Linked DNA regions of Homo sapiens. The protein of the gene in region 1 interacts with the protein of each later gene in a pairwise test. Each region holds a gene or a part of one and is shown on either strand. Other genes may lie near its edges.

What was found.
Region 2: the proteins of CALM3 (region 1) and CEP290 interact in binary tests that used the Homo sapiens proteins (3 or more experiments, as listed by UniProt).
Region 3: the proteins of CALM3 (region 1) and KCNH1 interact in binary tests that used the Homo sapiens proteins (3 or more experiments, as listed by UniProt).
Region 4: the proteins of CALM3 (region 1) and ARRB1 interact in binary tests that used the Homo sapiens proteins (3 or more experiments, as listed by UniProt).

Annotation. Positions count from the first base shown.
Region 1 is NC_000019.10:46,597,223-46,604,345, forward strand, and holds the start of CALM3 (calmodulin-3), read left to right. Parts: upstream 1-4,107; 5' UTR 4,108-4,212; coding exon 4,213-4,215; intron 4,216-4,846; exon of another isoform or gene 4,847-4,985; coding exon of another isoform or gene 4,986-4,988; intron 4,989-5,374; exon of another isoform or gene 5,375-5,417; intron 5,418-7,123. UniProt on the Homo sapiens protein: Calmodulin acts as part of a calcium signal transduction pathway by mediating the control of a large number of enzymes, ion channels, aquaporins and other proteins through calcium-binding. Calcium-binding is required for the activation of calmodulin.
Region 2 is NC_000012.12:88,048,511-88,055,108, forward strand, and holds the end of CEP290 (centrosomal protein of 290 kDa), read right to left. Parts: exon of another isoform or gene 5,991-6,598; intron 5,904-5,990; coding exon 5,830-5,903; intron 5,237-5,829; coding exon 5,142-5,236; intron 1,924-5,141; coding exon 1,844-1,923; intron 1,651-1,843; exon of another isoform or gene 905-1,650; coding exon 674-904; 3' UTR 506-673; downstream 1-505. UniProt on the Homo sapiens protein: Involved in early and late steps in cilia formation. Its association with CCP110 is required for inhibition of primary cilia formation by CCP110.
Region 3 is NC_000001.11:211,131,136-211,138,571, forward strand, and holds the start of KCNH1 (voltage-gated delayed rectifier potassium channel KCNH1), read right to left. Parts: upstream 3,014-7,436; 5' UTR 2,811-3,013; coding exon 2,732-2,810; intron 2,240-2,731; exon of another isoform or gene 2,053-2,239; intron 1,892-2,052; exon of another isoform or gene 1,144-1,891; intron 1-1,143. UniProt on the Homo sapiens protein: Pore-forming (alpha) subunit of a voltage-gated delayed rectifier potassium channel that mediates outward-rectifying potassium currents which, on depolarization, reaches a steady-state level and do not inactivate.
Region 4 is NC_000011.10:75,341,660-75,348,684, reverse strand, and holds part of ARRB1 (beta-arrestin-1), read left to right. Parts: intron 1-7,025. UniProt on the Homo sapiens protein: Functions in regulating agonist-mediated G-protein coupled receptor (GPCR) signaling by mediating both receptor desensitization and resensitization processes.

The DNA.
Region 1 (7,123 bases):
ATTATAGGTGTGGGCCACCGTGCCTGGCCCCCTTTTTTCCTTTCTTACTGTCTTCCTTTGTGGTTAAGTGATTTTCTCTGGTAGTACGTTTTAACTTGCTACTTTTTATTTTTATTGAATCTATTATAGGTTTTTGCATTGTGGTTACCTTGAGGCTTCTAAAAAAAATCTTATAACAAGTTATTTTAAAGCGATAACATCTTAGATCACAAAGAAAAAAATAGAAACAATGAATAAAAACTCCACACTTTATCTCCTTCCCTCCCACATTTTGACTTTTTGTTTCCTCAATTTACATATTTTTATTTTGCTTGTCTTTTAACAAGCTGCTATAGCTATTATTGTTTTAATTATGGGGTCTTACTGTGTTGCTCAGACTGGCCTCAAACTCCTAGGTTCAAGTGATCCTCCTGCCTCAGCCTCCCAAGTAGCTGAGACTACACCCAGCTCAATATTATTGTTTTTGATAGATTTGTCTTTGAGGCTTTATGGTAGAGTTAAGAATGAATTGCATACCACAATTACAGTATTGGAGTATCCTGGGTTTCTCTGTGCACCTAATTTTACCAATGGGTTTTATACCTTCAAATATTTTCTTTGGCCAGGAATGATGGCTCACACCTGTAATCCCAACACTTTAGGAGGCCAATGGGGGAAGACTGCTTGAGCTCAGGAATTCGAGACCAGCCTGGGCAACATGGCAAAACCCCATCTCTACCAGAAAGAAAATACAAAAATTAGCCAGGCATGGTGGTGTGCACCTGTAGTCCCAGCTACTCAGGAGGCTGAGGTGGGAGGATCACTGGAGCCTGGCAGTTTGAGGCTGCAGTAAGCTATGATTGGGCCACTGCACTCCATCCTGGGTGATAGAGCAAGATCGTGTCTCAAAAAAAATTTTTTTTCTTTTTGCATGGTTTTTTTTTTTTCCGGATTGAGGAACTCTCTGGAACTGTCTTTCTTCAAGAGAGCATTTCTTATAATACAGATCTGGTAGTGGTGAATTCTCTCTGCTTTTATTTGGGAAAAACTTTATCTCTTCTTCATATTTGAATAATAGCTTTGCTTGATACAGTATTCTTGTATGGCCTTCATGGTTTTGATTGAGAAGTCTGTGGCCAGGTAAATTAGAGCTCTTTTAAGTGTTATTTCCTTCTTTTCTCTTACTGTTTCTAGGATCCTCTCTTTGTTCTTGACCTTTGAGAGTTTGATTATTATATGCCTTGGGGTAATCAAATCTATTTGGTGTTCTCTGGCCTTTCTGTACCTGGATATTTGCAATTTTTGAATGTCTTCCATTGTTTCTTTGAATATCCTTTCTATCCCCTTGCTCCTCCTCAGCTCCCTCTTGAACACCAATAATTCTTAGATTTTGTCTTCTATATTTCGTAGGTGATTTCCATTCCTTTCATTCTTTTTTCTTTTTTCTTCTGTATGTATTTACAAACAGCCCGTCTCCAAGTTCACTGATTGTTTCCTCTGCTTGACCCACTCTGCTGTTGAGAACCTCTAATGAACTTTTCAGTTCAGCAAATGTATTTCTCAGTTCTAAGATTTGTTTGGGTTTTTTTTAAATTATTATTTCAATCTCTTTGTTAAATTTCACTGATAAATTTCTGCGTTGCTTTTCTATGTCGTCTTGGAATTCACTGAGTTTCCTTAAAAATGCCATTTTGAATTCTTAGAAAGCTCACATATTACTGTCTTGTTAGGTTTAGTCACTGGTCCCTTACTTGGTCCATTTGGGGAGCTCATGGTTCCCTGTTTGCTTTGGTTTGTTGTTAATGTACATCTATGCCTTTGCACTGAAGGATTAGTCACTTATTCCAGCCTTCTCCGTCTGGCTTGTTTTGGCTTTTACTGGCTCCATTTGCTTACAGATTCTTCGTAATTGACCTGTTGGTTTCTTTTTTTCTGCTAGGTTGCTGCCTCCTTTTTAGCACTCAGTGGCACCTTAAAACCAGGTTTGCCTTGGCTCTATTAAAGATCAGAGCGTCTCCCATCCCGAATGGGGGAGGTCCCAAAGGGGATATCCCAGTAGCATAGGAAAGCTGGCTAGGGGTTCATTCCCAGGGGAGCTATGGAAGAAACCTCCCACAGCATGGTGCTAACGAACAGCCACTCTGATTTGGCATCTCCTTTGGCCAAGTTATAGAGTAGAGAGAGTTTCCAGGGCTGGGGATGGTAGTCCCACCTCCCCACTTTGTCTGTGGCTATTCTCAGAGGATATTTCTCCCTTGAGGCACTCCTGATGGTTGTATTCTTGTGATTACAGCACTTTGGGAGGCCAAGGCAGGCGGATCACTTGAGCTCAAGAGTTTGAGACCAGCCTGGCCAACATGGTGAAACCCTGTCTTTACTAAAAATACAAAAATTAGCCAAGTGTAGTGGTGGGTGCCTGTAGTCCCAACTACTTGGGAGGCTGAGGCAGGAGAATCGCTTAAACCTGGGAGGCGGAGGTTGTAGTGAGCCAAGATCATGCCACTGCACTCTAGCCTATGTGACAGAGCAAGACTCCGTCTCAAAAAAAATACAGATCTTGTGTGAACTAACAGAATAAGAACTCACTTGTTACCGTGAGGACAGCACCAAGTCATTCATGAGGGATCCACCCCTATGACCCAAACACCTCCCACCAGGCCCCACCTCCAACATTGGTGATCACATTTTAACATGAGATTTGAGACTGAGTAACAAGTGTTAGGATTAAAGGCATGAGCCACCGCGCCCGGCCATCTTCTTTACCTCTCCACTGTGTCAGTTTTATTTTTCTCTTCTTCTCTAGACACTTTGTTCCTCAAGATAGGGGGCAGAGTGGGAAAATGACCATAGTCAGAATCTATGGGAAGGACCCACCCAAAAGGAAAAGGCTTCTTGTGCCCAGGCTGCAGATCCAAACCCCAGGGAAGGACTCTCATTGGTTCAGTCTCCATTCTGTTCCAGGTGGAGCATAATGATTGGTCCAGCCTGACTCGTTTGCCCATCTCTTAACCATCAACATGGTGGGGAGGGGACACGCAGGAGACTGTCAGCTCCTATCCTAAACGGGGGAGGGGGCAGGGGTGATCATTTTCTGAGCTCCTATAAACAAAGTTTCAGTTCTTTTTCCTCCTATGGCTGGAACACTGGAATAAGGAAAGAGGTCGTCTGTCTGGAGAGGCTGGTTGGGGAGTATGGTCTCCCCAGCCCAGCCAAGCTCAGGTCCCTGCATACAGCAGGCGCCTAATTGATGCTTATAGCACGAATGACTGAATGAATACCCCGTTCCCACAGGCTGTCCTGGGATGGTCCTAATTTCACAGACCCTGAGCGGATCAAGAATGAAGCGGGCCCAGGGGTCCCGCCCACCGGCTGAGTGCGTCTTAGGACGCAGAGACAAGACCACGGAGGGCGGAACCTCTGAGCGTTAGGTGGCACCTTGGAGACCCCGCCACCTCCAAAGGCCCAGTTAGGGGCGGAGCTTCTAAACCCTAGCATTTTGGATTGAACCATCGTCCGTCGGTTAAAGGGGAGAGCCGAGAAAGCCCTTCTGCATTTGTCGCCAGCCTTTTTACCACCTCCTGGCCACAGAAACGACGTATTTGCTTCTCTAACGGCGACGCCGTTTCCCCCTTCGCCTCGTTACTCCTCAAAGCCCCACGCGGCCACAGAGTTCAGACTTACCCACCACCACCTTGCAGTGGCTCGCCCCAGTTTGACGCATTGCAGGGAAGGTCGGACCAATGGGCGCCAAGCTCTCATTTCCGCCATGGGCCAGGCCCAATAGTGACGCGGCTCACAGAGGGACGCGTCACGCACCGCCGAGCTGTGCCCCTCCGCCGAAGAAAGTGAAGTGGGCCCGGGAGGCGGGGCGCGCGGCGAGGGAAAGTAGTCCGGCGACGGGAGCGAGCGCGCGCGCGCCCGGCGGCAAACCCAATTCCTGTGCAGGGTGGGGACGAGAGATTCGCGGGCCCGTAGGTGTGGAGCGGGGCGCGGAGGGATCCGTGGGAGCCGCAGTGCGGCGGCGCGCGGGCCGGGTGGGGCGGGGCCGAGCGAGGCGGGGCGCGCGCGGCGGCCGTTGAGGGACCGTTGGGGCGGGAGGCGGCGGCGGCGGCGGCGCGCGCTGCGGGCAGTGAGTGTGGAGGCGCGGACGCGCGGCGGAGCTGGAACTGCTGCAGCTGCTGCCGCCGCCGGAGGAACCTTGATCCCCGTGCTCCGGACACCCCGGGCCTCGCCATGGTGAGTGAGGCTGGGGGGTCGCCGAGGCTGCGGGCTCTGAGGCGGGCTTAACGGGGCAGGACCCCTGAGGGGGCGACAGAGCCCAGAGTGGGGGGCGTCCGGGCCCGGCGAGAGCCTCGGGACCCTTTTCTACCCGCGTTGTCGGGGGCTGTTGAACCCAGAGCGGGACGTCTGGATCACCAGAGGTTTCCAGAAGCGACTTTAGCACCAAATGGGATGTTTAAGTCCACAAATGGGTATCTGAGCCCCTAAAGGGGACATTTGAACCCCGGATGGAGGATCGGGACCCTCAGTGGGACCCCTCAAAAGGATTTTGGACCCAGGATGGGGCGTTGGGTTTCAGGATGGAGGTGTTTGGACCCCAGGGGACGAAATAAGAAAGATGGGCTGGGGAGGGGAGCTATTCGGGCCCTGATGAAGGCGTTTGGTCCTGAGAGGATGCGGGGAACGGGGGACGAAGGGAGGCTGGGCTGCTCCTGGATGGGGTGGTGGAGGGTAGCTGGGCCCGGGCGGGGAGGGGCGACCCCTGGGCTCCTGTGGAGCAGAGGAGAGGGTCAAGGATGGGCGGTCACTTCTACAGATGAGACTCCCGAGGGTGGGGGAGGGTGGGGGAGGGTGGTCTCCAGAGCCCAGCACTGCAGAGGAGGAGGAGGGTGAGGTGCAAGCTTATGGGAGGAAGAGCCTGGGGTGGGTGGCAGCGGAGATTAGAAGATACTCTTGAAGGCTTCCGGGACGGAGAAGGATCAGGGTCGTGGAGGTGGTGAAAAGGGATGGTGAGAGTGGGGCTCGCCAGTAGTCGGGGGACAGGGACCCTTGGGGTTAATTTGGAAGTAGCTAGAAAAGGTTCCGAGGTTACTAGTGGGTTAAGACTGTTGCTCTAGAAAGACAGAATTTTTTTAACGGGGTGGGAGTGTTGTGTTTGGGTCCAAGAGAAGATGGATTTCCAAGGTGAGGGGTGGGGGAGGACTTGGGCTTGGGTGGTTGGGAGGTGAGGTGGAAGGAGAAAATGAATGGCAGTCAGGGGGGCCTAGGTTTGGGGGTGGATGTGGGTAGCACCCTGCCAGTCTCCAGGGACAGGCCAGGACAAAGACGGCTCAGTGTGGATGGGGAGTGGGCTGCAGGGCCCGGAGGAAGCTTTTCTACCGTCCTCCTTCCTCAGGAAGAACGCGGCTGGGTGGAAGACACCGGGGCAGTGGGAGCAGGTGGGCGGAGCTGTTCGGGCCCCTATTGCGCACTGAAGCCTCATGAAATGGGGATGGGAGATCAAAGTTTGGGGTGCCTCGAATGAGCCAGCTTTTTCAAGCCTAGAAGCCTCACTCTGTCGCTGCCCTTTTCAGGCCAAGAGCACTGCCTTTTCCCAGCAGGAGCGCCGGTTTTCTCATGATCCCCAGCCCCACGCACCATGCTGCACCTCGTCACTTGTGCCAAATGACAGTGCAGTACAGTGTGGCGTCAGTGACAATCAGATGCCTATTCCCGTGCCCTCGGGGTGGGGGCTGCAGAGCTTGATCAGAGAGTGCCTCTGGGGAGACCCCTTGATCGGCCTGAGGGCCACTTGTTCCATTCAGGGCCCTCGCTGAGCGTGTCTGTTAATTCACAGGGCTTTGAGAGAAAACCAGCAGACTAGTTCTTTCCTACTCCCTGCCACCCACAACACCCACAGCCCCACCAGGCTGAGCCTGGGAACCGTGTGCAGCCATCCTCCCTGGCAAGGCTGGGGAGAACAGGCAGCCGCTGCTGTGTATCAGATCTCATACTTGCTGACACAGACCTGATGGCTCCTCTTGCCGCTACCCCATTTTCCCCCAGCAGAACCTGGCTAAAAGGGGCCCTGAAGCACTAGCAGGCCCCCTACCTCCAGAATAGGACCCAAGCTTTGGCCACAACTAGTTTCTCTTTCTGTTTGTAATCAGCAAGGTAGAGGTGGGACAAGTCACTGGTAACTGGCCTTGGACTTTGGCCTGAGCTCTGTGGCTCCTCCTTGGCCCGGGTGAGGGGCCCTGGCCTTGGTTTCTGATCTCATCTAACACTGCTCTCTGGCATTGGCTGGGGGCTGGGGCAAGGCAGAGAAATCACACCCTCTTCCCTCCCCCACCTCATGGTTTTTTTTCTTGTCCAGCCCCTTGCTGGAGCCTAAGATGAGGGATAAGGAAGCAGGAGACCAGCTGAGTTATTTTGGAAACAGTTTTTGTTGAAAGTTTAGTCTTCAGGTCTAGAAAGGGAAGAAACCTTGAGCAAGGATCAATGATATCTTCTTAGGCGGTCGGTTTTCTGGGCGGCAACCTTGCTTGAGATCTGTACCTTTCCTTGACCAAGCAGGGAAGTGGGTCTCCAACATGGGAGGGAGAGCATCTGACAGGCCCTCCATGCAGAGCCACGCCTATTTGCAGCAACCCTGTGACAGAACTGAACATGGCAGTGCCTCATCTGCATCTTCCAGTCTTTTGGTGGAGACTGGCAAACGGTGGCCTTCAGAGCCGCTCGGGGCAGTCTGCAGCCTGTCACAGCCTCCTCGCCCCCACCCCCAGCCCCTTACAGTGCTGCCCAAAGGTCCGGGGAGCTGGACTTCTTGCAGGGCGGAACAGTGGGCTGGGAAGGCCCTGACCTGGCTCGCTTTTTCCATTCTAGGCCAGGGGAAAGAATGAAAAGCAGATGGGATGGCAGCCACCTCCCCACACTGCTGCCCTCCTCTCTGTTCTTTCCCTGACCCTCCCTGGGCATTGCCTGGTCTCGGTAACCAGAAGCCCATCCTCCCTTCTCACTTTCCCTAAGCCTCTTCCTCAGGTGTCAGGACCTAAGGGATGGCTCCAGGCTTTTTTGTCCATGGTGGGAGGTGGGGGGCAGGTGGATCAAGAGGCTCATGGGCCTGGGGCTACCAGGTTGGCATTTAGAAGCCCAACCACCCTGT
Region 2 (6,598 bases), on another chromosome or scaffold:
AACATCAATATGTTTTCTACCATTTGTGAAGAAATGAATTTTCCAGTTTCAAGTACCTATTCAAAATTTTATTAAAAACCAGCAAATTAATTTTAATCTCTAGCCATAAAAACATAAGTAATAGTAAGCTCCTAAGCTTGGACAAAGGCTGGATTCTCTTCACTATAACTGAGTGGTAATTTAAAGACAACAATTTAATGTCACTAATTTTCAAAATTAAATAGTTTAAGCTCAATTTAATTTTGCTAGATATTTAACAAAACATACGGCTCAACCTCATAACCTATATGTGTGTATGTCTACATCTGTGTATATATCATAGGATTTGAGAATCTTAACACATGTATAAATAAGTATATATAAACTCCAATTTTAAATCTTAAAATTGCTGAATTTACCCTCATATTCTTTAAAAAACTTAAAGCATTATGAATGTAGAGAAATTCACCAGAGCTCACTGCCTATTTGATGGCTGTAACAAGTCTTCAAGTATATACTTTTATAATAAGTTGAAAATTTCATATAATTTTATTTATTAAGAATTCCAATCTAAGTATAAAGGTACAAGGTAGTGAGAAGGAAATACTACAGTTCGGAGAACTGCTTATTTCCAAGTATATTTAACTTATAAAGTTAATAAATAGTTAAATGAAACAAAGTTTATAGGTGACCTTTAGTAAATGGGGAAATTAACAGGACTTTCTTCTTCATCTTCAAACTCTTCAGAAGCAGCAACAGGGCTAGTTAATTCAACTCCCAATTGTTCTGAAAGTTTTTTTACCTTCTCTTCTAAGAGAATATTCTTCTTCACTTCTTCCTTGTAATTATACTTAAGATCTTCAATTTCTTCAAAAAATGAAGGATCAAAATTTTCCAGTTCTTTTTTCAGCTTCTTTATTTCCTCCTAATGGAAACATTATCTTTAAAAGTTGCATATAGGAAATATACATATTTTACGTTTGAACAAGGAGATTTAATTGTAAATATGAAAGCCAAAGTATTCCTGAATGGTCAAATACAGCAATAAAGGCAGAAGAATTAAGATTTTTCTTTGTTCCATTGTACAGTGTAAATAACTAAGTTGTTAACTGTCAAGTCCAGTTATGTATTCTGTAAGTTGTGTTCTAGTCTTTGACTAAAATTTATCATCTCTTATAATGGGACTTAATCTTTCTCTAAAAGCATATAAGAGCTTGTCAATAGAGCAATCAATCAAAAAGATTTTGTGATTCATAACATTGAAGTTAGTCTGGTTAAGAGTTTTGGTTTAGACTTCATTTATATTTTCCTTACTAATATCTAATATTTAATGAATAATGATCAATTTTTTATAAAGTTATTAATATGATCAGGGAAACCTTTGGGACTTCTGACAGGCATCTGGTGAAGAGACAATTCAAGCCTTAGTGACTATTTAGAATAGCCAGTGATCACTAGCTAATTCTCATATCCATGCCTTTTTGTCCTGTTTACAGTCTTAAAAGAGGTAAAACAGCAAATATTTTTTTAAGGGAACTATAACCTTAGGATTCCTGAAAAGAATTTCAAAAAAAAAATAAAGACACTGTTGCCAATGTGACCCAAAACTTAAGAACATACTAATGGCATATATTTGTTACAATTAAAAAATAAATTTACTACTTAATCCTATGTTGAGTCTGAATTTTTTGTTAACTCTAATATGTTAGGAATAGTCAGATGAACATAATTAACTTTGCAATATAAAGGTCAAATATAAGATGTTATTACTGAATTTTTTAGGATACGTAGTTAAAGATGGTAATGAAAATAGTTTTCAACAGCTGTTTTCACAAAACGATACTAAAATATAATTAAATATTACCTTCAAATGCTGCTTTTCTAGATCTGACATTTTGAGCTGTGTCTCTAGATCTTTTATTTTTTCCTTTAGTTGATCAGCATCTGTTGAAAAAGTCATACAAATTAGACTCAGCTTTTTCCCACTACGAATGAGTTCAAGGTAATGGATTTGTTCTAGAGAACAGAGATACATTTTATGAAACCTAGAACCTGGAAAACACTGGATGTTATGGCTGAAATACTTCAGGATGTAAACACTTAATGCTGCCTCCCTCCATCAAGTATTATAATTTCATAGCAGGCAGAAAGAGGTATGTGCTAGGTATTAGAAGTGTAGGCCAAGTTATTTTTTCTTCACATGATAGAAATTTTACATGGAAAAAATCCTAAAGCCAGGGAAACTTGTTAGGTACTAAAAGTACAACAGAAGAAAAGCAGACTGTTGGGTAAGGGACTATAACCATAAGCTAGCCAAATGCTCCCGCTATCCAACACAACACTGGCTATTCCATGTAGGTTATTACACATTTACTGTGCAATTACTATGTGCAAAACGTGTCATGCAGGCTGTGTAATACAAAGATAAGTAAGACATAGCCCTGATACTTTGGTAGGAAAACAAAAGTCTCCAAATATAGCACAAAAGTTCTAATTTATTGGATTCACCCTCCAAGTTAACACCTCTAACTTTATCAGCAGGCAAATAGGATTTTTGCTTTAATGCTATCTTTGCTAGATATCTCTTTTCTTTATATTATACTACATTTAATAAGTCATATTTTACAGCCATTGAAAAATAATAAAATACTAAAAGTTTGCGAAAGTAAGGGGCAGCAAACATTTTCATGGCTGGGACAAGTATCTTTTTTTTTTTTTTTTTTTTTGAGACAGTCTCACTCTGTCGCCCAGGCTAGAGTGCAGTGGTGCAATCTTGGCTCACTGCAACAACCACTGCCTCCCAGGTTAAAGCGATTCTCCTGCCTTAGCCTCCCTTGTAGCTGGGATAACAGGCAAGTGCCACCATGCCTGGCTAATTTTTATATTTTTAGTAGAGACAGGGTTTCACCATGTTGGCCAGAGTGGTCTCGAACTCCTGACCTCATGTGATCCACCCACTTCAGCCTCCCAAAGTGCTGGGATTACAGGTGTGGTGTGCTACTGTACTGGGCTTGGTATAAATATCTTAAAAGTTATCTTGCCATTTATATAGACAGTGATTTAGAATTTCCAAAACAGTTCTGGTTTGATCTTAAGCCTTAATCTTTGAAAAATGACAGGTAATCTGTCTACTTAGGAAATAAGGAATTTTGAGGGTTCAGAAATTCCCTTAAGAAACTGAGGAATGGAAAGATTAGAGAACTATCTATGGCCATATGACCCTTAATGCACATGCACCTGATCTCTGATCTCAGAAGCTAAGCACTGTTGGGCCTGGTTAGTATATGGATGGAAGGAAAATTATAAAATTTTCCTCACATCAACAGCATTAATACTGTGTCTAGTGTACATACCAAGCTGGCTGCTATGAGACATATTTTGAGAGTATTTAATATGTACTTTTAGTTACCAAGACGTAGCATAGCATAGCGGGTTAAGGACTAGGAATGCCAAGGAGCTGTGGAGTTTCATACATTTAGATTTTAATCCTGCCTCTATTTCCTAGCTGGCTTAGGGAATGGTTACTTAACCACTTTGAATTTGTTTATCACATAAAATGGAGACAGTAATACCTATCATATATGGTTGTAAATATAGAATGCTTGTAAGGCAATTAGCATAGTGTCTAGTACAACTCACACATGATGGCTTTTATTACAAATTAGTAATAGGACTACATAGCATACTGAAAAAGCTACAAGAGATAGTCAAAGATAGTTCAGATATAAATTGGTATAATCCTTTGGAGAGAATGGCATCTCTATCATCCTATCACAATGGCATAATTAGGTCAATAGATTAATCATATTTTATAGAAGCAGAAACTTGGAAGCAAACTAAATATCCATCAAAACATAAATGGTTCGATGTGCTTATACATGCAATAATACACTATGGAATTATTAAATGGATGAGATAATTTATGAACAGACCTCAAAAGATGTCCATGATAAACTGTTAAAGGCAAATATGCTAGAAATGTGTATAGTATTAGTTCAATTTTATGTTACTTGCCAAGAAAATATATATACGTAAATGCAAACAAAGTATTCTCTATCCATAGTAGTTTTGGTCTATAAAGTTAGCCCAATTAGTGAATATCAAACCACTGCTGCTACGGGAAATATGTACAGACATGCATATATATACATACACGCATATATATACATACACGCATATATATACATACACCTACATATCTCACACAGATGATAATCTTAAATCCTAAAGATAACTCATCCTGGTAAATTCTATTTATTTACATAAGAAAACAAGATTCAGAAGTGTTACATGACTCTCCTAAGGCTAGAGCAGTAACAAGCCTCAGAATTGGGATTCAAATCCCTTCCACCAGGCCCCAGAGCCACAGCTTCTTGCACTATGCTGTGCTGCCCTCTACTGTCTCCATCCTCTGCTCATTTCTCTATGAAAACTGAAATGAGGATACTGAGCACTGCCTTGTTGGACTTCTGCTGGGGACATGTAGGTTGGATTATTCAAACTTTCCAAGGCTCTGTGGATGTTTGCAAATGTGCTGCGAGTGTTGATTTGGGATTACATACACACTTTAGTGAGGAGGTGATTTAGAAAATACAGAATCCACAAATAATGAGGATATGTACATTGTACATATGAACATACAAACACATGTATGCATATGTGTGATATATATGTATACAAAATATGTGTGTATGTATATGCAGGAATGAGGAATGATTAGTAATCACTTTTGAATGGGAATGGAAGGGAGCAGAAAGATTTTCTTTTTACTTTGTAAACGGAAAAAAATATAGGCAGTATTTACTTATTTGCAGTTTTTAAAAATGTTCAGAGGACTTGAAAGAGCCTATACTTAGAAACTGGAAGCAACAGATTTAGTATTCATTGCTTAGCACTGTATTGTGATTAAATCTGTAACACCCAGATGGAGAACAAAGAGAAGAACACTTGGGTACTTGCTACTCTATAGTATAAACAACACAAAGAGAAAAATGGGAATATTTTTATATTAATAGCACAGAGAGACAAAAGACCCAAAGCTTATCAGGAATTCGATTTTACAGGGAGACAATGATCAGAAATCTGAGCCAAAAAAAAAAAAAAAAGGCAAACCCAAATTCAAAAACTTGGGGGTAGCTAACATGTTTTTTAAAATACATTACCAGGTATGGTGCTTTCAGCTCCACTTTGGTCCTTGTTAGCTTCTATCTGATGGATTAATTCTGCTTTCTCTTTATCCAGCTGATGATTAGCTAATCTAGAACACAATGATAATGTGTTAAAAAAATAAAGCAGATATTGCTTCATAAAATATATGGGCATTTCTTATGAACTAGTGATGTACAGTAATCAGAACAAGCTAGCCTTTATCGAAGTAAACATTTACTCTCAATGCTACAATGTCACCATTCTCAAACAAAAAGCCTGGAATACAAAAGCCTTCACGTTTTTCTTAATATCTGACCTGATGGCATTTGCAAGTGTGGTTTCGTTATAAGAGGAGCTTAATGAAAGCAGGCTACAGAGACCCCTGAAAGTAAAAAAATTACTTGTTCTCTTTCATTAGTATTTTCCTCTGGGAAGCTAAGGTTTAACTCATTCTATGCTCTTAGAAAAGTTTAAACTAAATTACAAACTGGAAACTTAGAGTTGGGTTTATCCTTTTTTTCTAGTGTGTATTATGAAAAAGAGTGATTAGCATTAGAGGGAAGAAATAAGGACCTAATAAGCCTGTTAGGCAGTAAAGTCGAAAAATGCTTGTCTCTAGTTGTAGCAATTCGGAGTATATAAAAACTAATAATTTTTTTTTTAAAGAAAAAAACAAAGTAGTCATATGAATACATGATGTACCTAAGAACTTGAAGCTCCCGTTTAAGGCCTTGCTCTGTCTCAGCACCTTCAGGAACATGTTTAAGAATCTTAATCTTTGAGGACAATGAAAAGTTAGAAGATAAGGTTTGCCATGGAAATATGAGGATTTATAAAGATACACATTTTTAACAAAGCGTAATATTAAAATATGGTTTTCAAAAGCACGCATAGGCAAATTTCTATGTTCTATTCACCATTCATTCAACAAGTATTGAGTAACTACTGCATAACTGGCATTGTCCTAGGCACAGAGGCTAACAGCAGTGAACAAAATGGCAATGTTCCATCTTGCATGGTCCTTGTTTAGTGGGGAAGCACAAAGAATGTGTGTTTAATATGATATGATGTAATATAGTGCCAGATGGTAGGAAGAGCTATCAAGAAAAAATAATCCAGGGTAAGAGGATAAAGAGTGATGGCAAGTAGTATAGGGTTAGGGTTAGGGTTAGGGAAGGTCTCTCTAAGGAGCCTCTATTTCAGCAGAGACATGAAGTCTGGGAGCAAGCTATGAGAATATTTGGGTGAACAGTATTCTAAACAAAGGAAACAAGTATAAGGACTTGACGCTTAAACGAGTTTGGATTGTTTAAAGTACTGAAAGAAGGTTACTGTGGTTAAAACATTGTGAATGAAATGAAGGGAAAAGTAGTAGAAGATGAGATTGGGAAGAAAACTGGGTGCCAGACCTCATATGTTGTTTTGGGATATGAAAAGAACTTTTAAGTTTTATTTTAGGGTGATGGAGAAC
Region 3 (7,436 bases), on another chromosome or scaffold:
CAATTTCCTTATTTATACAATGATGGGGAAGGAGAGGCAGACTAGATAATATTTAAGGTCTGTCTCTTCCCACAGCTCTATGATATTCCGGGCATCAGATATTCAAATAACCCAAAATGAAGTCAGTACTATTATTCATTATCATATGAGAAGTTTTTAAAGGATGATAAAAATAGTTCCACAGACTAAGTCATAAAAGCTGGAGAAATTATAATGCTGAGAGAAGGATATATGATAGATGTCCTCTAAGGAATACCAGCCTCAGGCATTGTTTGCTCTGCCACTTTGAATAAGCCACTTAATATTCCTAGGACTCAGTTTTCTGATCTGTAAAAGAGGAACATTAATACTGCACAGGACCACTGGGAGAAAATATCTAATAAAATGATCATAAAATATTGCTATTCAAAGGTAAAATGCTATTTTAATACCGTAATGTCCAAAAAAGGGCTCATGGATTTTAGAATGAGACAATCAATATCTTTAAATAGACTTTTTCCACCACAGTAAAATAATATAATGCATGCAGATATTGTGATATTTCTAGGAGTTCACATTTTTTCTTCCATTTGTGTTCAGGAAATATTATAAAAGGGATCACCTTTTAAACATTGAGTCCCATATTTCAAGATGAGAACCATTTATTCTGAAATAATAATTTTAAAAATTCATCCAACTCTCCCAAGATGCTTCATTTTTTTTGATGCTATTCATTTGATTGGTTAATTGAAATCAACCTGCTGAAACTGGTGTTGAAATGACAATGCCCATCCTAAAAATATTCCCAGTGACTTATTCTATTCACATTCTATGATTACAGAGGGAAAGTGGCTCTAATAAGATCAACTAAAATAGACAGTATTCTGCCTTCACAGCTCCAAGATTCTTAAGGTTCCCTTAAAACCCAAGGCATCTTGTGACTTTTACATGTAAGTTTCTCTTCCTGCTCCCTCCACTCAAAAACATACACAGTATACATTAGGTACTGGGTTTCCCCTCTAACTTACAGGGCACTGCCTCTTTACTGAAAAATAGAATTGTCATTGATATTTATGAGAAAGTTGGTGTCACTGACAATGGGATAACCAAATTTGCAAGATTGTCTCCATACCCCTTAATAGTCCAATAAAAATAGCAATAATAGCACAGTAACTCTTATTTTATTTAAAAATAAATGAACAACTCCAGCTTTTTTATGGCAAAACAGTTCATTGTGGCTGTTCACATAGCAATTATCATCCCCTTGCATCCCCAGGTAATGACTGTGACCTTGACCTAAAAGCCACCTTAGTTTGAATAAGGAAGACCTTGAAAGGAAAGGTGACTGACCAGAAACACTCTTAAGAGGCACACAATAAAGAAATGATCATTTCTAAGAAAGTACTTAAATAATACGTGATTATTTGCTATGCTAGTTGATGTGTTTCATTATAAGATAAACTTAAATCACTGTTTAATTAAAGAGTGTTTATTAGTAGCATAAGTCACTTTTCATGCCCTTCCCCTGAATCCCTAACTAAATCCAAACAGAAGCTCATCATTTTACACAGAAGCTCCTTAGACTCTGAAATCGTGATATTTACACATTATTAAAACCCATTTCCTAAGTTAGCTCCTCATGTCTCCCTGGTAGAAGAATGTCATCTGTTTCTGGAAGGGGTGGGGTGGGGGCTCTAGGAGTCTGCAAAGAGCATCTTATGCTTGGCTATCTTTCAATATAGCCATTTGATGAACTCGTGCGCTGCGCCTTCCAACTGCCAGGACTCCTAGTCGCTCTGCAAGTGCTTAGTTGGGGTCTCTCCTCTGTTAAGTCCGAAAGGCGTTTGGAATTCTTCCTTTCCATCCCCGCTCCTAGGACTCTCGCCTCTCAAGGCTTCATGCTACCGTCGATCTTAATGCCACAAGGAAACAGATGAGTGCTGATTGTCAGTTTATTGGGTAATGGATCTATTTATAGGTTTGGTGAGATTGGGAATTTATAGGTGAGCAACACTTAAGGGTGGCATAAAACCGTTGTGGGTTTGGAAGAGGGGAAATATAACAGGTTTGTACCTGTGACCATTTAGTTCGCTCTGCACCTGTGCCCTCCACTTCCCACCTGACGCCAGGAAAACCATCTGCCCCTCACTTCGAAGGTGAGCCTTAACTTCACCTAGAAAGTGGTGGGTGGGTGAAGGGGTGGAATCAGGCCGCCGAGAGCACGTCCCGACACCTCGGACTTTTCAGTTGCAGGGATGGAAGGTGGAGGCAGCCGGATCCTCCCATTCTGAGGCAGCGGGGACCTGGAGTTGCCCGTCTCTACTGCTGGCTCTCCCTGGGGAGAGGCGGCGCCTCTGGGAGCAGCCCGGGAGCCCCAGAGCCTTCGCGGAAGGGTGGGCAGTGCCGATGGGGCGCGCGCTGCCGCTCCGGCTGCAGCCAGCTTTCCATCACTTTTCCCAGTACTTTGCTCAGCAGCTGTCACGCATCCTTGGAGATAAGACCGAGAGGGCGCTAGAAAGGCCCAAAAGGCGTCCCCAGAAGAGCTCTCCTGTTAGGATGGGGACCCATCAGACCCCGCCCCGCCCTGCCCACCTTTCTCTGCCTCGGGGAGGCTGCCCTGGGTGCCCGCGCCGCGGCTCCTTAGCAGAGCTCGCGGGTTCTGCTGCATCTGCTGGCTCCGAGCGGCGAGAGGTTCTGCAATAAAGGCACGGATAAAACGCCCGGGTAATCGAAATCCGAATGCACCTCTTACCATTGGACCGCCGAACAATATTCTCCAGAAACGTGTTTTGAGGGGCCACTAGTCCCCTCCTGCCCCCAGCCATGGTCATCCTCCCAGCAGCTCGGGGTCCGGCGGGCGTCCTGGCGCGGCTTCTTACGACAGCAGGAAACTGGCCTCGGGGCCCGCACGCAGTCCCGGCTCGAAGCGCCCCATGCGCCCGGCGGGGATCCGCAGGCAGGGCTGGCGGCTCCCTCTGGCTGCTACCCTCGCGCCCTCTTCGCGCCTCCCTCCCTGCGGCCCGCCTCGCAGTGCACTCGCGCCGGCCTCGGCTAGCGGCAGCCGCCTCCGGGTGGGCGGAGGGAGCAGCGGCGCCTGGGCCGGCGGCGCCCCCTACCGGGCTCGTGCCCCACCGCCGGCCTGCGGGAGACCAAGCTGGGGGGCTCCCGCAGAGGCAGGGAAGTGGCGGGCGGCCGTGGACCAAGGCTGGGACGGCAGCGCCACCCTCTGGGTTCAGCCGGGAAATGTGTTCAGGATGTGCCATGGGCTGGGTGGAGAGGAGGGCATTGTGAGCAGCTTTCAGGGCGGATTCACCCCCAACAAGTCTTAGGGGAGCGTGCTGATGTAACTCTCTTCCTTTGCTCTGTTTCAGGCCGGGGCCCCCGGGACCTGTGAGGCTCTGGGAACACCTTCTTGCCTTCCTGTAAGGTTAGCCTGACTAGTGAAAGTTGCCCCACCTTGATTCTAGGCCAGTGTTTGAGCAGTAATTAATGAAGTCGTATTGCAATAGTGCAGATTTAGAGTGACTGGCAGATTCAGCTTCAGAAGAGTTGTCTTGGGTTGTTTTTACCGTAGACACAAATGCAGGCTCCTGATGTTTGGTATGATCAGTATCAAACTGCCTGACAAACATCAAAGGGGTGGACTTGTCTCTAAGGGCGAATGCTCAGGAGAGGGGCAGCATTAATTAAGCAACCGTGGCTTTGGCTTGAAGGGTAGTCTGTAGTGCAGAGGATACAGTTAGTTTTTACAGCTGACCCCTGGTATACGGAAGAACCACATACACCCAAGGTTTCTGGACAGGGGCTAAGACAACGGTCGTTTGTTCACTTATTTTGGGGGATTTCGACCCACACATAGTCTGTACCTGCCTTTTTACTATGTATCCCCAGTCGGTGCGGTGGGAGACTAAGCCTATGTCCCACAGGAGAAATGAATGGAGAGTTTACTAGTTTCAGACTGAGTCAACAGTCAACACAAAAATGTAAGAGAAAAAAAAACTAACCCTGAAAATTAATTGTCTGGGTTAGCCATCCTGACATATCCTAATGTATTGCAAAGACATCCTGTCTCAGTTAATTAATTTCAAAAACAGAAGAACTAATTCTTGCCCAGAAATCTCTCAGAGTTGCTGTGAAGATCAAGCAAGAATTATGTATGGGGACAGCACCTTAAATTGTAAAGTGCTGTGCCAAGGTCAGACGTCATTATTGGAGTGACTAAATAAATTGGGCCATTACGAATATCACCCTTTATCTCGTCTTGTGTAGAGACAAAGTAAACAGATTGCTGTTAGCAGAGAGTTGGATAAGACTGTCATAGGATTTGAAATGCAAGTAATGATACACTTTTTCCTTAAGATAGCCTTCTACCCATCGCCTGTTACCTAGTCTAGAACAGTGATTTCTTAAACCCTAGCTCCGTCTAGTGGTTCTTTGTTCTATTACAAATGAGATAACACTGGTTGAAGAGAACTTGATTCTGAAATGTATTTGGTGCTGAGCTGAGCCAGTTTGGTGCCTATCCACTTCATTTGAATAAGTTCATTTAAATAAGGTTTTTAAAGTTGTGTTATCGCACAAACATGCCAAGGGAAGATTTTTCATGACAATATTAAAAACCCATCAAGAAACCTCATAATCCTGCTTGTGAAAGGAAGATAAAGAAAATAATGTGGAGGGGAAAACTATCATAGAGAGTTAATAAAATTTCTAAGGTTTTAATGAGCTCTCATGTTCTGTGGCTTAGATAAAAAAGGAAACAGATGATATTAGTTTGAGATCAGAGATGTTAAAGCCTTGGTGGGCAACCTGATGAGAAAAAGAAATAAGATGTCTTCCATTTTAAATGTACTACTGAAATGGATCTCAACATGGACTCTGTGTGTGTGTGTATGTGTGTGTGTATTGGCACCTTTTTGAATACTACAATTTTTGGTGGCACACTTGAAGAAATTAAAAGACCTAAAACAAAATAGTGCTACTACAAAGTGGTTCTTTTTTTTAAAGTTTTAAACCTCCAGATTGTGTGCCATAACACGATCACATTATTTTACGTCTTTTTGCTTAAATAAGACTGGATGCTTATAAAAGCACTGTTATACTGTGTTATGGCACTTTAAGTACTTGCTTAGAAATGATCATTTCTTCATTGTGTGCTTCTTAAGAGTGTTTCTGGTCAGTTACCTTTCCTTTCAAGGTCTTCCTTATTCAAACTAACTAAGGTGGCTTTTAGGTCAAGATCACAGTCATTACCTGGGGATGCAAGAGGAAGATAATTACTACGTGAACAGCTACAATGAACTGTTTTGCCATAAAAAAAAAAAAAAAAGCTGGAGGTGTTCATGGATTTTTAAATAAAATAAATATTTAAGAATTAAATTGCTAAAAAGTCAGCAGTCTTTCATCACAATGTGAGTGTCTCATGGTGTCTGTGGAGGTACATCCAGTTTTTCCCCCATTCCCTTGGTTCACTCACAACACATCTGACTGCAGGAATAAAATCATGTTCTGCCCTGTCCACAGCCACATTCTCAATATTCCAGTAAACACTCCCTCTTTCTTGGTGCTAGTTGACGGGATACTGTGCTTCTTACCTTTTACTTGCCACCTTTTGTTCCCTCCTTGACATTCAGTTCCAGCACCTGCTCAACTTAAAGTTCTGTCTGAGATCTACCTCTGTAATATGGGAATCTCAGTTAGAGTAAACTTTAATCTTACAGATTTGTCAAAACTTGGTAACAGATTTCTAAAGGATTCACAATATACCAATGTACCATGGCAAACCAATTGAGAACGCTTATATTTTTGCATAACAGACAAAGCCACTCCTTCATTTAAAGGGACAACTTTAAATAACTGTGACCAGAGTTCCAATTCAACTGCCTCTATCCTTCCATGCAGAAAATGTAGCCCATTTTCTGCAGGGATACAGAGTTCAGATACAGAGTCTGAAATAAATTCTAAAATGTGAGTCTACTATTTCTAGGCTTCTTTCCTCCTGTATCCCTCAGCATTTTGTTTACCCCTTAGCTATAAGATGTGTTTATGTCTGTATCACACCGTAGATTGTGAGCTCCTTGAAACAAAGACACACTATAACAATTTTTGTTCTTATAAATGCTATTAAGCTACACTGTAATTAGTGAGTTCACAAAAGTAATAGATAGTGATGAAGGCATAATGCTATAGGGAGAATATGGAGATGGTGATCTGCAGATTGGCTGGGAAAAGAGTCCAGGAGATGACAGAAAAATCTCTCCCAACAACAACAACAAGTCTATCAAATGAAGAGGATGACAATGCCACACATCAGAAGGGGCAAATGTTATCATATAAAGACAGGAACTTCATTTTTCCTTCCATTAAGACCACATGGTGTGGGTGACAGATTTTAGAAAGCCAGGAACCTCTCTAACATAGGAAAGTTGCCTGTGAGTCCTAGGTCTGCGAGCTGGAAGGGGCAGGCCATGGATGCATCGTCATTAGCAACTTAAGCGGAGGAGAAATTGAACATAGAGGCGACTTCACTACTCAGCCACCAGGAGTGAAATATCTAAATATCTAAAAGTGGAGGAATTTGCAGCATGAGAAATTTCAGCTTCTATAGCCCAATGACTGACTGACTTATTATATGTGATTTCTGTTAACAAAACTTCTATTTGAATAATCTTATAGGAAGAATGTTGGGCAGACTATATCCATTGAAAAAAAAAAAGATTCCCTGCTATAGATGTATTTCCCTAGTGTTGGGAGAATGGACAGAATCTGCTTCAAAGGAAATACTAGTCCCTGAATCTAATTGACTGGGGAAAAGAATGCACTGATGTGGGTCTACACTCACCCATGGTTAACCCAATAGATAGTGTGAAATGTTTGTAGAATTGAATTATATCCTTCCAAGTGCCCTAAGCTATTCTTCTTTCTCATTTCCTCTAAACAAAAGAGAAAAGGATCTTTCATCACACCCTTCCCTCAGTGGGAAATAATTAAAAGTCATTTACAACAGTCTCATTTTATTATGACAAACATTTGCATCGTGTCTAGTATATAGCAGACAGGGATAGGTTCTAAGGATTAAAAGATGGTTATGATTGGCACCTGCCCTCAAGAAATTCAACAAATATTTAATGAATGTGTATGTTCTTCGTCATTTCTTTCAACTGCTTTCCTGTCTCCAATGTGCCCTCTAAATCTTCCTTTCTTTTTAAATAATCTATAGTTCAACTTGACCTCTTCGCTTAAGATTTTTTTTTTTTTTTTTTGAGACAGGGTCTTGATCTGTTGCCTAGGCTGGACTGCAGTAGCAAAATCATGGCTCACTGCAGGCTCAACTTCCTGATCTCAAGTGATCCTCCCACCTCAGCCTCCTAAGTAGCTATAGGGGCAGGCCACCATACCTAGCTAATTTTTTTTTTTTCTTGTAGAGACAGGGTCTCCCTATGTTTCCCAGGCTGGTC
Region 4 (7,025 bases), on another chromosome or scaffold:
TTAAGGCTGCAGTGAGCCATGATCATGCCACTGCACTCCAGCCTGGATGAGAGAGTGAGACCCTGTCTGAAAAAATAAAAAAAAAAAATACCTGGACAGGACTAATCACAGGGCAGGAGTATGATGGTTGCTGCAAGGTGCTCTGGGAACAATCATATATTCATTCAACAAATGTTGATGAGTGCCTTCTGAGTGCCCAGGGCCTGGGGATTCAGCAAGGAAGGAGTCTACTCTGTCCTCCAGGGATTTAGAGCAGAGCAGGTGGTCATAACGCAGGATGACATGTGTTGTGGGAGGCTTAAGGAGAAGTCCCCAACCCAGGCCCAGGCAGGGAGCATGGTACAGGAAGCTCTCCTGGAAAGGAGGTGGCGTTGGAACTACTGAGCTTCATCTGGAAGGATGAATAGGCCAAGGGGGCGGGATTGGGAATGATATTTCTGGCCAAGGGTGCAGAATGTGCAGTGGCTTGGAGGCAGGAAGCAAGGCGTGCAGCCTGGGGCCTGGGCTGGGGATGATAGTGAGCCTTAAGAGGTAAACACAGACCGGTCACCAGCAGTCTGGGAATGTCAGGCTAAGGAGAGAGCATTTTCTCCTGAAGTGGATGGTGATTCAGAGAAGAGTGTGAGGCAGCAGAGGGCTGGAAGCAGATGTTTTCATTTCAGAGAGATGTCTTTGGCAGCGCCAAGTAGGGTGGATGGGAAGAGCAGGCCTAGAAGCAGGAAGACCAGTGAGGAGGCTGGGGAGAAACCTGAGAACTAAGGCTGTGAGCTCTGAACTTAGGCTGCAGAGAGGATAGAGTTGAGAAATATGAATGTGAATAGGAGGTGGAGTCCATCAACCTTGCTGGTCGATTGGACCTTTGCCAGGTATCTGGTGTGTGTTAGAATTACACGCATAATCTCAATGAATTCAACTGTAATCTAGTAGTGTAGTCATTGTTGTCCCCATTTTGCAGATGAGGAAACAGACTAGAAGAGATTAAGTATTTGTTCACTGCCATTCAGCCAGCAAGCATAAGAACCCAGGCCTATTGACCCACAAAGCCCTCTCTGCTACTCGACGCTTTTGCCCAAGAGAGGGGGCCTTGTCTGGCTCACAGTTGGCCTCCCCAGCAGCTCCCAGCCTCAAGTTGTGCGTCCTTTCTGGGCCTTGCCGTTTCCACTTACTCAACAGACAACATGAAGGATCAGATTTAGACAACAGGAGGGACTTCCTGAGAGGCAGTGGTAGGGAATGGAATTTCCTTTCCTGCAGATGAACTCCTCTTTTTTCAGAGAAAGGAGGGTGATGAGGACATGTAATCACCAGCTCTCTGTGAACTTTGGCTGTCATTTCTCTTGGTGGTTAAGCCCTGTGTGACCCATCTTGGCTGGAACATGGGGAAGTCCTGTGGCTTTGGCCAGGGCTGCTCATGGGGCCGCTGGGAGTGGTAGCATCAAGTCTGGCCCACTGTCTCTGATCCCTGATTCCAGGCCGGCCTCTGGGCTTCAGACTTCTCCACTGCTCTCTTCCTTCCAAGTTTGGGCCTCCTTGCCTGAGGCTGACGCCTCCCGTTGGCATGGGTCCAGAGGTCCTGAGTTGTGGGCTTGCCACTTCCAGGGCTTCTGACACTTTGGGTTGGTGGCAGTAGAACAGCAGGCTGGGAGTCAGCACACCCCAAGTGAGGTCCTGGCCTCTACACAGCCATGCTCCGCTACTGCCAGAGTGCCCGCGCCTACCATCTGGCTGAGGCCTGCATGGCTGGGAGCAGCTTGGTGAGGGAGCCAGGGCAGTCTGTTATAGGCTGGACGTAGTGGGGCTTCTGCATAGAAGGGTCTGGATCCTGGGGTAAGAATCAAGGTGCGAGGCAGGGCTTTGGAAATGTGGATGAATGACATCGCATAGGGAGGAGGTATAGAGTATGAAGAGAGGATGATTAGGGACAGCCAGGGCCTTGGAGAGCACCAGTGCCTGGGTATGGAGAGAAGAGGGAGGAAACTGACGGAAGGCCATATTCTTGGAGCCAAAGAAGCAGGGACAGACCCACAGAGGATGAGCTGGAGCGAGACCCCTCAGATTCAGCCAGAAGGCATTAGCTGGTGGCATGGGTTTTGGTGGAGTGGTGAGGGCAAAACTAGGCTACAGCGGGCAGAGAGGAGTGGGAGGGGACCCTGCTTTTCTACATGCCTGGAGCAAGGCTTGAGCCTCTTGGAGGAAGGGCGTGAGGCCCTGGGCTGGGAGCAAGCAGTATGGCGGCAGGCAGTGAAGACTGGGTATGGGAACCTAGGGGTTTTATCTCATCCACCCCCTCCCTCTGCCTTATGTCCAGAGGCAGAAGACCACTGCCCTGTGCTCTCCTTTCAGGCTCAGGCTGAGGGGTTGTGAAGTGTGAGCTGGTCCTGGGGAAGACATGTAATGTGCTGGCTCCAGAAAGGAGGGGCTTCTGACTCAGGTGGGGGACTTGGAGGAAGGCTTCTTTGAAGAGGTGACCCCGGAGCTGGGTGCTGGAGTATGAGAAAGACTTAGGCAGGAGTAAGGTGTTCTAGACAGAAGAAAGAGCCTAGGCCAAGGTGCAGATACTGGCTGCAGGTGTGGGAGTGTGAGGGGTGAGGCTGTGGAGGAAGGGACAGCCTTGGCCAGCAGGTCTTGGATGCTGGAGGGGGTGGTTTCAAGGTACTTTCTTATTCATTCATACCTCAGGCTGAGTGAGCTCCCCATTTGGTAAGCAGCTTGTGGTTCAGGGCTATTTCTGTTTCTCAGTTGATGCTTCCTTACCCACGCTGGGTCTGCTTCCCCAGGAGATGCCTGGCAGAGGTTTGCTGAACTGGACTGAAAATTTTTTTCCCTTCTTGCCTCTGCTATCGGTCCAGGGACTCCCTAAGTGCTGAAATTAGGCCTTTCCCATTAGTGAATCGTAAGACTGAAAGCGATATTTCCCACATTAGGCAAGTTCTCAAAAGAGAGGGGTGGGGTCCTGACTCCTCCATCAGACTGGGAAGTCCTGAGGGACAGGGTTATACCACTCCTATTAGCATGGGGCGCCTGAGCGGGAGGCCTGGGGCTCCCTCATCTGATTGGCTTTTGCAGGTGGGAGCCATGTCTCCCTCCTCAGACTGGAGGCTTCTGAAGGAAGGATGTCTCCTCCATCACACCGGGGGCTCCTGAGGTTGGGGCCTTGTCTCCCATGTGAGCCCTGGGATTAGAACAGGTATCGTCTCAGATGGTCCCTGGGCACCCTGTGTTCTTCCCTCCTATGTGGACAGGATGGTTCCTGTCCCAGGGGTGGCTTGAGTCCTAGTAGGGGGTTGGAGAACAGAGGGGGTTGGCAGGACAGGGTGGCTGCTTTTGAGAGGGTAACAAAGGACTCTGTTGTCCCAGCCCCCTCCCGCCTTCCCTAAGGGGCCCTGGCAGGGTCATCTCTCGGGAGACGCGCCTCCTCCTTCCTGGGACTGGCCCCATCTTTAGCCCCACTTCAGAAGAACTGCTTGTTCCTTCCCAGGAGACCTGGTGCCAGATGAAGCCCCTGGGAGTTGGACAAGACAGGTCCCCAGAATTGTGTGTGACTAAGGTCACCGCAGGAACTGAACAGCTTTTCCTCTGCCTGGGGCTGGGCGGCACCTGGCTGAGGCCACAGTTGAGCTTCTGCCTCCCTGCACCTGGAGAGGGATCTGCTGGTCTAAAGGGCCTTCAGCACTGGAAGCACTGTGACTGATGTCGAGTCAGCGGGAGGCAGGATGCAATGTCTGAACCATTCAGTGGTTCAACAGCCCGTGTATGGGCCTGGATGAGGCAGGAGGTCCCTTTCATGCTGGCCCTGGGCCTGTAGCCCACAACCAACTCACTTGGTCCTTGTGCGGCCACACCCTTCCCTCAGCCTTGCAGGGAGGCTTGTCGAACTGGACTGAACTCTTTCTTCCTTTCTTCCCCCATCACACTGGGGGCTCCTGAAGTTGGGGCCTTGTCTCCCACATGAGCCCTGGGATTAGAATAGGTATCATCTCAGATGGTTCCTGGGCACCTTCTCTTCTGCCTTCCCGTGTGCAGGATGCGTCCATCCTAGGGGTGGTTTGAGTCCTAGTAGGGGGTTGGAGAACAGAGGGTTGGACAGAGGGTGAGCAAACCTCTGCTAGGTTTGTTCCCTCTTCACCCTTGCCCCTGCCTTGTGCAAAGGGCATGGACAGGTTTTGGCATAGGGCCAGGGGAGGGGTGGGGAGTAGACTGCTGTGGCTCACCATCTCAGAATGGTCCCAGAGGCATGCTCTACTGCTTACTTATTGCTGTGTGACCTTGGGCATGACATGCACCCTCTCTGGGTCCTAGTTTCCCTGTGAAGTCAAATCAGGTGAGAGGCCCTTTTGCTAGCAGGTCCAGGAGTGACCTTTCTTCTGGGCGGCCAAAGTCTCAGGCCTCTGCTACAGGCCAGTGGGACTGAGACCACCAGGGAGTGTGTCCTGGGTGGGGATGGGTGTTGGGTGCTGGCGGCCAGGAAGGAATTGGCTACTGCTCGAAAGGGTAGTGCTGTCTCCCATGGTATCAGGTCCTTGAACAGCAGTCATGTTCACCTCCAGGGACATAAAGCATCTGTAGCAGGTCCAGGGCAGTGGCTCATGCCTGTAATCACAGCACTTTGGGAGGCCGAGGCGGGTGGATCACTTGAGGTCAGGAGTTCGAGACCATCCTGGCTAACACGGTGAAACCTTGTCTCTACTAAAAATATGAAAAATTAGCTGGGCGTGGTGGCGGGCGCCTGTAGTCCCAGCTACTCCGGAGGCTGAGGCAGGAGAATAGCATGAACCCGGGAGGCGGAGCTTGCAGTGAGCCGAGATCACGCCACTGCACTCCAGCCTGGGCGACAGAGGGACAGAGCAAGACTCTGTCTTAAAAAAAAAAAAATACTCAGGTCAGGAACACTTCCTCCAGGAAGCCTTCTCTGCTGCTCTGGGGCCTCCTCTGGGCACCTGCAGGCCCTTCGGTGATCTGATTAGCATGGATTATTAGCAGATTAGCATAGCGGTTAGGCTCTTGGAAGAACCAGATTTCCTGGTTTCCAGTCCCAGCTCTGACACTTACCAGCTGGGTGGCTTCCCTGATTACTTAACCCTTTCTCTGCTGTGGCTCCCTTATCTGTAAAATAGGGTAGTAGGTTGTCATGAGGACTGAGTTAAAATTAAGTAAGATAAAGCAAAGAAAGTCCCTGTGCAAGGTCAGTTTTATGCGGTTCTTATCGCTTATATGACGTCTCACCGGCCCTGCCTCCCTAACCCAGCTGTGAGCTCCCCCAGGGAAGGACCCTGTTTGATTCATTTTTTTGAGCCTCCCAAGGCCTCATTACAAGCCTGTATTATTGCTGGCTTTCAGTACCTGATTGCTGACTTGACCACATACAACAGCTGTCCCATCCTTCAAGGCCTGGATCACATACACCTCTTCCTCTGGGAAGCCCTCACTGGATTCCCAGCGCTTTGTGACCTTCTTGTAATCTCTCTCTCTCAGCACTCATCCCTCCCTCCCTGCATAGGTCCTGGTTATTTGCACACTCGTGATGATGTCATCTTGTGAGGTCAAGAACTTTTCAAGAGCACCCTGGATCTGCTTGTCCCCAGCACCTGCGCAGACCTGGCATGCCGCTGAGCTCCATAAATATTTGTTCAGCCAAGGCATTTCGCTGGGAGGAGATACTCTAGGGGGTGGGCAGTGTGGTTGGTGAGGACCATAGGACATCATTGCTGATTTCAAAATATCTCAAAGTAGCCCAGAGCCATAGGAATTAGATTATTCTTTGTGACCTAAAGGGCAGAGGTCACTGGATGTTCAGCTTTACCTTGCTTGAAGACTGTATTTTCTGACAACCAGAGCTCTCTGGGAAGGGGATTGGCGGCTCATTCCCGCCTCAGGGCCTTTGTTCCTGCTGCGCCTCTCTGTCTACTTGGTCCAATCCTACTTCCTAAATAGGTGCCCCGGCCACGGAGCCATTCTCTCCCGGCCTCTGGAGGGCGCGCTCCATTCTTCATCCTCATCCTCAGTCATGTACTGAGCCTTTCCCGGGTGTGGGCAGTGGCATGGGAGAGTAGGGAGTCCCTCCTTAGGATGGACATCTGGGTCTGGCTGCAGTCCCTCCAGTGTGGTTTGACCCGGCCTGAGGAGGGGACCATGGTTTCCGATGACCCACCGGTGATCAAGGAGCTCTTTATTCAGCTGGACAGCCTCCCTTGGCTGGCAGAGCACAGAGCTCCCCATCGGCTCCCCACTGGGCAAGTACTCAGAACCCACCTAATTACTGGGGACAGAATTCTGGGCACTGCATCCAGCAGGCTGCGGTCATAATCAGCTAATTAAACCACCCAAGCATTGCTCCTTGGCCCAGAGCAGAGGGAAGGGGGGTGAGGTGGTGAGGCTGGGAGGAGATGTAACAGGGGAGGCTCAGAAATGGGTCTGCAGAGCAGGGCTCGGAGAGGGAAGCAGGAAGTGCAGAGGGAAGGTGAGAAAGAGGGAGAGAAGTGGGCAGATGCCCAAAGGTGCCATCTGAGGAGAGCACCCAAGTGGGGTGAATGGAGGGAAGGGGCTCTGGCCTGGGAGACAGGGATCTCACTTCTTCACTGTCCCTGTGCTGCCATAGGCAAGCTGCTTTTCCTCATTGGGCCTCAGTTTCTCTATGTGTCAAGCAGGAAGTAGGAGAGGCTTTGGCCTAGAGGCTCCTCCCTAGGACCCTTTCCTTCTCTCGTTAGGAGGGGAGAGGGCGTGAGCAGCAGTGTGATTCTGGCGGGACAGCTTGGCCTCTGGCAGCCCTGCCTTCTGGAAGTGGCAGACAGTGTAGGAGTCTGAGCCAGCCTAGACTGGGTGGGAAGGGAAGACAGTTGGGAGCAGCAGTCTGCCCACCTGGCTCCCCAAGCATGTCCTGCCCTTGAGCCTTGGTCCTGTCTTTGGGACTGTCCTGTGGTTCCCAAACTAGTCCTCAGCGAGGGACTCTTTAAGGCCGAGGGCTCCCTCCCCAGGGCTGGGCAGTGTCATTTCCATCTGTGTAGGAATTGCCCAAGTAGCACCCTCAG